3 linked regions of the Homo sapiens genome follow. The protein of the gene in region 3 interacts with the protein of the main gene of each other region in a pairwise test. Each region holds a gene or a part of one and is shown on either strand. Other genes may lie near its edges. The genes, in order: RBM3, HSCB and IGF2BP2.

The links.
Region 1: the proteins of IGF2BP2 (region 3) and RBM3 interact in binary tests that used the Homo sapiens proteins (3 or more experiments, as listed by UniProt).
Region 2: the proteins of IGF2BP2 (region 3) and HSCB interact in a two-hybrid assay, tested with the Homo sapiens proteins (one large-scale study listed by IntAct).

Annotation. Positions count from the first base shown.
Region 1 is NC_000023.11:48,578,918-48,581,732, reverse strand, and holds the end of RBM3 (RNA-binding protein 3), read right to left. Parts: 3' UTR 571-2,815; downstream 1-570. UniProt on the Homo sapiens protein: Cold-inducible mRNA binding protein that enhances global protein synthesis at both physiological and mild hypothermic temperatures. Reduces the relative abundance of microRNAs, when overexpressed.
Region 2 is NC_000022.11:28,752,039-28,755,024, forward strand, and holds part of HSCB (iron-sulfur cluster co-chaperone protein HscB isoform 1 precursor), read left to right. Parts: intron 1-2,986.
Region 3 is NC_000003.12:185,814,947-185,818,685, forward strand, and holds part of IGF2BP2 (insulin-like growth factor 2 mRNA-binding protein 2), read right to left. Parts: intron 1-3,739.

The sequences.
Region 1 (2,815 bases), on a different chromosome or scaffold from region 3:
TGCATAGAGTATTATGCCTGTTCTGGAGTTGCCTTCATCTTGAGCACACTCTTTCCCTATGGTATGTAAGCCGTGGGTTGAAGAGCAACAGCATGGTTATCTTGCTGCCACCCAAGGCCATGCTTATTTTTGAGACAGTTGTGCTCTGTCGCTCAGGCTGGAGTGCAGTGGCACGATCTGGGCTCACTGCAATCTCCACCTCCCGGGTTCAAGCCATTCTTGTGCCTCAGCCTCCCAAGAAGCTGGGATTACTTGGTGTGCGCCACTACACTCGATTAATTTTTGTATTTAGTAGAGACGGGGTTTCATCATGTTGGCCAGGCTGGTCTCAAACTCCTGACATCAGGTGATCCACCCACCTCGGCTTCCCAAAGTGTTGGGATGACAGGTGTGAGCCACTGCGCCCGTCCCCACGTCATGCTTCTAAGTCCCCCCAGTAAAGAACCCTTTACTAACAATTTTTGTCTGCCTTGTTTCTTGGCTCCTTCGGCATTTGGAGGTTTGCATACAAGGCTCTTTCATGGGAACAATGAGTAAATGGATATATGCATTAAAAAAACGAATATACTCTTTCACAGCATATTAGAAATGTTTATTAAGAATAATGGCATGAACTGCTTTTAACAATTTAGAAAAGACCCATTCCCCCCGCCCCCCCCCGCCCCCAGATCCAGGGCACTTCCTCTAAGTAAATACAAATATTTCTGTAGTGAACTGTATGCATATTCCCACTGAGTAAAGGTTATAAGAAGCCTCAGGTCAGGTCTTACCACCAAACTTGAAAACACTTGGAATGCAGCTGGGCAGGGACTTGAGCAGGTTTTGTCTTGATAAGCAGGTAAGAATGGCAGAACACTGGCTTATTGTCAACCAATGTTTTTTTATATACCTGAAGTATTCACAGCAACTTATTTTAAGAAGCTTTTTAAAAGTTCTACACCTCCACCCCCACAACTCCCCAATCCAGAACATGGAACAAGGGTGTGGAGCTGTTTGATGGACTTGGTCTGTTCTTAACATTTAATACTCTTAACTCCTAGGCCAGGTGTGGTGGCTCACGCCTGTAATCCCAGCACTTTGGGAGGCCGAGGCGGGTGGATCACTTGAGGTCAGGAGTTCAGGACCAGCCTGCCCAACACGGTGAAACCCTGTCTCTATTAATACAAAAATTAGCCGGGCGTGGTGGCAGGCACCTGTAATCCCAGCTACTTGGGAGGCTGAGGCATGAGAACTGCTTGAACCTGGGAGGCGGAGGGTACAGTGAGCCGAGATTGTGCCACTGCACTCCAGCCTGGGAGACAGAGTGAGACCCTGTCTGGAAAAAAACCAACAAAAAAACACTCCTAACCCCTGTGTGAGGTGGGTATTATTATTTCCATTTTATGGATGTTATAACTGAGGCAGAGAAGAAATTAAACTAGGAAGCAAGGATCTGAAGTGATTTCTGCCTAGGTGGGATAGGAGGGGTTGGGCTTAGGACTTGAAAGCCTAATTGAAAACCAAAAGCCAATCTCTTAATTTATTCTGGCCCTTGACAAGAGATTTGGTGAATGGTTCAGAAAGATTTTTGGTACAGACAAGTTCCAGGGCTTGAAAGTGAAAAGTAGTTACAGGCCATGTGTTTGGTCTTTGCAGGTCTTGGGATACATGTTCTCAAGGTACCTTGAGTGTTTGGGGGGTTTCTAGCCTCAGTGGGTTCTTGACAAATGTGCATCAGTTGGATGCTGAAGACAAACCAAAGTAGGAGACCAACAAGCACTTTAAGGGTGGTCGGGGGTTGACCTCAAATCTGGAACTTTATTCATCACAGACTATGGCACTATAGAGAACTGTGGGCTCTCTTCCTTAGAGCAGATAGACAGCCAGAGACTGGGACTCCCTGGGCTGGATGATCACAAAGCACATTGTAAACACAGCAGAGCAGAGCAGGTTTAGAGTTGTTATACAAATAAATTTTGGTCTTCATTGATTCCACTTAGGAACATTTTGTTGCAGGAATATTACTGATTATGGATCCTACCTCAGCTGACACTGGGGGTGAGAGGTACATTGCCATCCTGAGAGACAGGGAGCAGAGGACCCCCTCCAATCCCCCGACCTACAAGGCATTCACAGCAGTCCTCCTGCCAATTCTCACTGCCTTAGCTCCCTAAAGGCCCAGAATAAGATGCGTCCTCAGACCAAGTATCCACCTGGTGGGGTTAGCCACAATGCCCCATAGCCTGGGCCTGGCTTAGTGGGTGAGGTGGAAGTTCCCAAGTCTCCATCCACCTGCCAAAGCAAATTCATGACTGTTTGGGTTACAGGAAGAAGGGATATTGGGGCCTGTCCCAACTAGCTGGGAAACTCAGGAGGCAGGCCTCCAGGACTGGAACTAATAATACAGGGTTCCACAACGCACCAGCAAGGGAATAGGCAGCTCAGGACAATAATGTCCTGGAGTTTGCAACCTGGTGGTAACTTAGCTCAGTATTAGCCAGGTGAAAGCCATGAATACAACAGATTTTTCTGTTCCAAACTAGAACCAATGGAGGGATAACACCCATGGGGCCTCAATACAGCCACTAGAAAGAACCATGACTAAAGGGAGCAGAACTGAGGAACTAAGACCAGCTAGAATTACAAAATTACCACTTTACCACCCAAGACACACACACACCAAAAAAGATCAAATCCCCGTGACTGAGAGCTTTGCCAACTCTTCTCAGTGGCTTTATATGCCAATTAACCTAACCCTCCACAGAAAATGTAAAATGGCATAAGGCTGAAATTAAATGACTCACCTGAGGTCAAATACCTGGGAAGTAGAAGAGCC
Region 2 (2,986 bases), on a different chromosome or scaffold from region 3:
CAAGATCACGCCACTGCACTCCAGCCTGGGCAACAAAGCGAGACTCCCTCTCAAAACAAACAAAAAAAAAACCTGAAGGAGGAATGAAGCTATTCTCAGGCAAATAAAAATTGAAGGAATTTGGGCTGGGCGCGGTGGCTCACACTTGTAATCCCAACACTTTGGGAGGCCGAGGCGGGTGGATCAAGAGATCAAGACCATCCTGGCCAACATGGTGAAACCCCATCTCTACTAAAAATACAAAATTAGCCAGGCGCAGTGGCGCGCCTGTAATCCCAGCTACTAGGGAGGCTGAGGCAGGAGAATCGTTTGAACCTGGGAGGCGGAGGCTGCAGTAAGCCAAGATCACGCCACTGCACTCCAGCCTGGTGACAGAGCAAGACTTTGTCTCAAAAAAAAAAAAAAAAAAAATTGGGCCGGGCATGGTTAATGATGCCTGTAACCCCAGCACTTTGAGAGGCTGAGGCTGGCGGATCACAAGGTCAGGAGATTGAGAATATCCTGGCTAACACAGTGAAACCCTGTCTCTACTAAAAATACAAAAAATTAGCCAGGCCTGGTGGTGACCGTCTGTAGTCCCAGCTACTCGGGAGGCTGAGGCAGGAGAATGGCGTGAACCCGGGAGGCGGAGCTTGCAGTGAGCAGAGATCGCGCCACTGCACTCCAGCCTGTGCAACAGAGCGAGACTCCATCTCAAAAAAAAAAAAAAATTTGTTGACAGGAGACCTGCCACGTAAAAAAAATGTTAAAAGAATTGATTGGCTAGGCGTGGTGGCTCACGCCTGTAATCCCCACATTTTGAGAGGCCAAGGTGGGCGGATCACAAGGTCAGGAGTTCGAGACCAGCCTGACAAACATGGTGGAACCCCGTCTCTACTAAAAATACAAAAAGTAGCCAGGCATGGTGGCGCTCGCCTGTAATCCCAGCTACTCCGAAGGCTGAGGCAGGAGAATGGCTTGATCCCGGAAGTCGGAGGTTGCAGTGAGCCGAGATCACGCCAATGCACTCCAACCTGGGTGACAGAATGAGATGCCATCTCAAAAAAAAAAATTATTTAGAGTGGAGGAAATTTATATAGGTCGGAAACTTGGGTCTACATAACGAAAGGAAGACCATTGGAGAAAGGAATAAGTAAATGCAAAATTAAAACTTATTTTTTAAATTGATCTAACAAAGTGTTTTCAAAATAATAAAAGCAACATTAGACCGGGCGTGGTGGCTCACATCTGTAATCCCAGCACTTTGGGAGGCTGAGGCGGGCGGATCATTTGAGGTCCGGAGTTCGAGACCTGCCTGGCCAACATGGTAAAACCCCATCTCTACTAAAAATACAAAAAAATTAGGGTGGCATGGTGGCGGGCGCCTGTAATCCCAGCTACTCAGGAGGCTGAGGCAGGAAGATCGCTTGAACCCGGGAGACAGATGTTGCAGTGAGCTGAGATCGCACCATTGCACTCCAGCCTGGGCGACAAGAGAAAAACTCCAACTCAAAAAAAAAGGATAGAAATTCTGACACCAGCCGGGCACGGTGGCTCACGCCTGTAATCCCAGCACTTTGGGAGGCTGAGGCGGGTGGGTCATGAGGTGAGGAGATCGAGACCATCCTAGCTAACACGGTGAAACCCCGTCTCTACTAAATATACAAAAAATCAGCCAGGCGTGGTGGCGGGCACCTGTAGTCCCAGCTACTCAGGAGGCTGAGGCAGGAGAATGGCGTGAACCTGGGAGGTGGAGCTTGCAGTGAGTGGAGACCACCTCACTGCACTTCGGCCTGGGTGACACAGGGAGACTCCATCTCAAAAAAAAAAGAAATTCTGACACAGGACCGGGCGCGGTGGCTCACGCCTGTAATCCTAGCAGTTTGGGAGGCCAAGGTCGGCAGATCACAAGGTCAAGAGTTCTAGACCAGCCTGGCCAACATGGTGAAACCCCGTCTCTGAAAAATTAGCTGGGTGTGGTGGCAGATGCCTGTAATCCCAGCTACTCAGGAGGCTGAGGCAGGAGTATCGCTTGAAATTGGAAGGTGGAGTTTGCAGTGAGCCGAGATCGTGTCACTGCACTCCTGACGGCAACAAGAGCGAAACTCCATCTCAAAAACAAACAAACAAAAAAAAATCTGACACAGGCTCCAACATGGATGAACCTTGAGGACATTGTACTATGTGAAATGTCAGTCACAAAAGGACAAATACTATATAATTCCACTTATATGAGGTACCTGTGGTAGTCAGATTCATAGAGAAAGTGGAATGGTGGTTGTGGGGGGATAGAGTCAGGAAGAGGAAAATAGAGAGTTATTTCATAAGTAGAGAGCTTCAGTTTTGCAAGATGAAAAGAGTTCTGTGGAAGGTCAGGCACGGTGGCTCCCACCTGTAATCCCAGCACTTTGAGAGACTGAGGCAGACAGATCATCTCAGGGCAGGAATTTGAGACCAGCCTGACCAACATGGTGAAACCCCGTCTTTACTGCAAATACAAAAATTAGCCAGGTGTGATGATGCATGCCTGTAATCCCAGCTACTTGGGAGTCTGAGGCACAAGAATCACTTGAACCCGGGAGGTGGAGGCTGCAGTGAGCCAAGATCATGCCACTGCATTCCAGCCTGGGCAACAAAGCAAGACTCTATCTCAAAAAAAAAAAGTTATGTGGATGGATGGTGGTGATGCTTGCCCAACAATGTGAATGTACTTAATGTCATTGAACTGTACACTTAGAAATGGCTAACATGATGAATTTTATGTCATGTGTTACCAACTTAATTTTTTTTTTTTTTGAGACTGAGTTTTGCTCTTTCGCCCAGGCTAGAGTACTGTGGCATGATCTCAGCTCACTGCAACCTCAGCCTTTCGGTTTCAAGTGATTCTCCTGCCTCAGCCTCCCAAGTAGCTGTGATTACAGGAGCCTGCCACCACACCCGGCTAATTTTTGTATTTTTAGTAGAGATGGGATTTCACCATGTTGGCCAGGCTGGTCTTGAACTCCTG
Region 3 (3,739 bases):
ACAGATATTTTTAAAAATACATATAAAAATGAAAGCATGCCAATCTTTGTGCAACATTCTGTATCCTAAACAAAAAAACCTCAAGTTTTTTTTCAGGATTTGAAAAAATATATATATCTGGGTCAAAGGCATGGAACAGGCCCTCCTCCCACACTGCATACATGTATGTTTTTTACACTTAACTGTCAACCACAATGATTTTTAAAAAAACCTCTTTCTCTTTATATAATTATAAATGCTTCTACTATAGGACTACTTCAAGGAAGTTCTTTCAAATTATGACTAACACTTTTAATTCTTTTCAATTATATTAAATTAAAAATATACTGAACTTGAGTTCCTAATCTTTCTCAGCATAGGTTTTATATATGGAAATTTTCTCTTATTCTAAGTTAGGAATAATATACAAAGTTACTTTATAGCCTGTATACATATTATCACAACTTTCTACTTCATTGCTAAGGTTCTGTTGCAGTATTCAAATGAGATGGACAACAAGCCACTGCCTTCTGAAGTTCTGGTCAGGAGCAAGGAGTTATTTTAGAGTCTGAAGCTTTAGAGCCCTTTGTGTAAGAAGGATAAAGACGGATCTCTTCAGGCTGTGGGGAGGATAAAACAGGAAGCCTAGTCCAGTGCCTAGCACGTAGCAGCCACCCAGTATTAGTTAACTCTCTTCCTCTCCCCCATCTCCTGAGTCAGAATTCCACGGAAAATGCCATATCCCACTCTGGACTGTACTAACTCAAAGAAATGCATGGGGAGTTGGAAATAACCTTCTTTCACCTATTTTTTTTTCCTTGATAATTCCTCTCTCCCTCCCACCAGCACCATAAACAGTCCATAAGAGTTAAAGGAAACGAAGATAAATGCAGGAAAAGTTTACAGTTGAGGGGAAATGAACTGTACTTCACATGCTTCATTATTTAGCATATTTTTTTGTGCGATTATAAAATTAATAAAGAACTCAGAACTTTATGGATACTATCCCTATTAACACTCACCCCATAGTCAAGACAGTATGAGAGGCCCAAGGCCTTATTCAGTACAGAAAGTGACGTAGAGAAAGATACCACCTCTGGGAAAGACCTGGCAGTTCCTACCAGGGAAACACGTAAACCACAACACAGCCCTGACCTTTGCAACAGGCTGTCTGAACCCCGTGAAGAACCCACCCAGGAGATTCCTTGAGCTAGACTTTCATTCACCACATGGCACATAGTCTTGACCCGGGTGACAGTTCGCTGTCTAATCTGTGTGGCTCAGATGTTGAAAGAAATGTTTGTCTTGTTATGTCAGGAACACAACTGCCGAAAAAAGCAACATAACAACAACAACAACCCCACAACCTGCTTAGGTATATTCCCCACTTCTGTCTGTGGGCAAGCACAGAGATGGGAAGACGTGCAATGCTACCTTTAAAATTACCTCTATTTCTAACTATTTTTTTCTAAAAACTATAGCAAAGTACAGATCACTCAGACTGATGTAGCATCATTGCAAAGGTTCAATTCACAAATGTATTTTCATATATTTCTACCACCCTCGAACAGCATTCTTCGAACTTTACAACACATTCAGCTGACTTCTTTAATGTAAAACGTTAAATGGGGAGGAAGTACAGTGGAGCGAGACTCAGGGACCTCAAAAGACCTGGGTTCTAGCCCTACTACTTAATTAACAGTCATGTGGCCTAAACAAATTATTAAGCTTGTCTGGGGCTGAGTTTCCTCATCCAAAAAAAGAGATAGTATCAATTGTCCTATTTTTCACAAAATTATTATTTGGAATAAATGAAATAATGTGTCAAAGAGGCTGGAACAGCATCAGTACTGTATGAATATTAAGATGCAGGCAAAAAATACTCCTCCCTGAGATAATACTACTACCATTGTTTAAATATCAATACATGAAATCATCAACCTTTCTGATCACATTTAAAACAAAAATTTAAAAATTCAAGCTTCCCACTACAGCAAATCCTTACTTTGAGACACATTAATTACATGACAATAAGAAAAACTGAAAATATAATTCTTATTGCAATGTTCCCATACAAATTTTTCTGGTCATTAGATGCAACATTTATTTTGATATGGGTAAATAAGAGAAAGCTCAAAACATACATCAGAACTCTTAATTTTCATTTATCAGACTTATTAAAATATCTGCTTTATTTATGAAATGTCCTTGACACTAAACAGAATGGGAAAATCCTATCTGAATGTTCACATTTTAAGAAATAAAGTGTAGAACAGATAAATAATGAGGAATAAACAAAATGTATCTCAAAAATACAGATATTATTTAGTGAAAAGCAGAGGCTTGGGGAGGAGACATAACTATCAAATGATGGAACAGGGCTAGCTTTTGGGCTTGAATGCCTCCTATTAATGCAAAAGCATCCATTTTCACTGTTGTACTTATTCTATCTCAATATACCATCAAACTCTAAACCAAATTAAAGAAATAATTATTGTATTCCTTCTTCCCTTTGGCAGCCAAGCAACAGAATCTGAAGTTTTCTACAAAAGAAAATAATTTTTCTTCACTATTTTATGGAGAGACCAGACTAAAGTCCATGATCAAAACAGGAAAAGTAAAACCTTAAAAATAATGCTCTGAGCACTCTGCAATTTTGCTGCCTAAAATAGAACCCATAGAGTCCATGCCACCAAATGAAAATTATAAGTTTGTAAGCATGAAGTCAAATTATAAAGTAAAAGATTTAAAATGTTTTAATGGTGATGATAAATGGGAGGAAAGACTTATCTTCATTGGTAGGTGTTTGCTGTTTATTTGCTATTATTTGTTCAATGATACTGCTTTTGAATGAATACCCAAAATAATTTGAACATGAATTTGAATATAAGAAGGATAAAACTTTACTAATAAATTCTGGGGGCATGTTTTGTTAAACAGAACACTCCCATCTCTCAATTTAAGAAGTTAATCATAGCTTTTGAGAGATAATGCTTTTGACTGAAAGTTTTAGAGCATGAACTCTTTAAAAATTAGCTTAGCCAAGCCCACTAATTTCTAACACTGAAAAGAACACTGAAGACTTTTGTGATGTTTAAATATAATTTTTAAAAATATATTTTGAAATGTATAATTCAACATTTTTAAGTCTCCAAAGAAACTATTTCAATATAACGCTTCTTCTAATGAAGTTTACTCACTGAGAGCACTTGTGTTATGCAAAATACCATATTGCTTTTCAAAGTATAGAATTTCTAAATGGAAGTGCATATTCAAATCTTGAATTTTCTGACACTTAAAAAAATGGCTTATAACATCATCAAAGCCTTCACAGAATCTTTTGTGACAGGGGATAGCCAAGTGAAAAGGAAGGAGGGAAGATGCTGCACTGATGGTCCTTTCAGTAGCATGCTCACTGTAAAACCTACTCCAGGTACCTGTGACTTGGCTTTCACAAGGTTAACCACCTACAAGAGTTATTCATCACTCAAGGCAAATATCACTGCACTGGATTCCCTTTGCCACAGGTTTCAATCACCAAGCAACTTTCTTGAGCCTTGTCAAGACTGAATTCCAGAGCAACTGTTGTTCAATTAAAGATCTCCTGCTGCCTCTTCATACCATCTACCTGAAACTGTCCCCAACAAAAAACATATACACACACTTGCACATACACCACTGAAACAGAGAGAGGAAACATTTAGCTCAAATAATATCCTCTAACAATTCTGACCAATTGCTCATCTACTTTTGAGGGTTT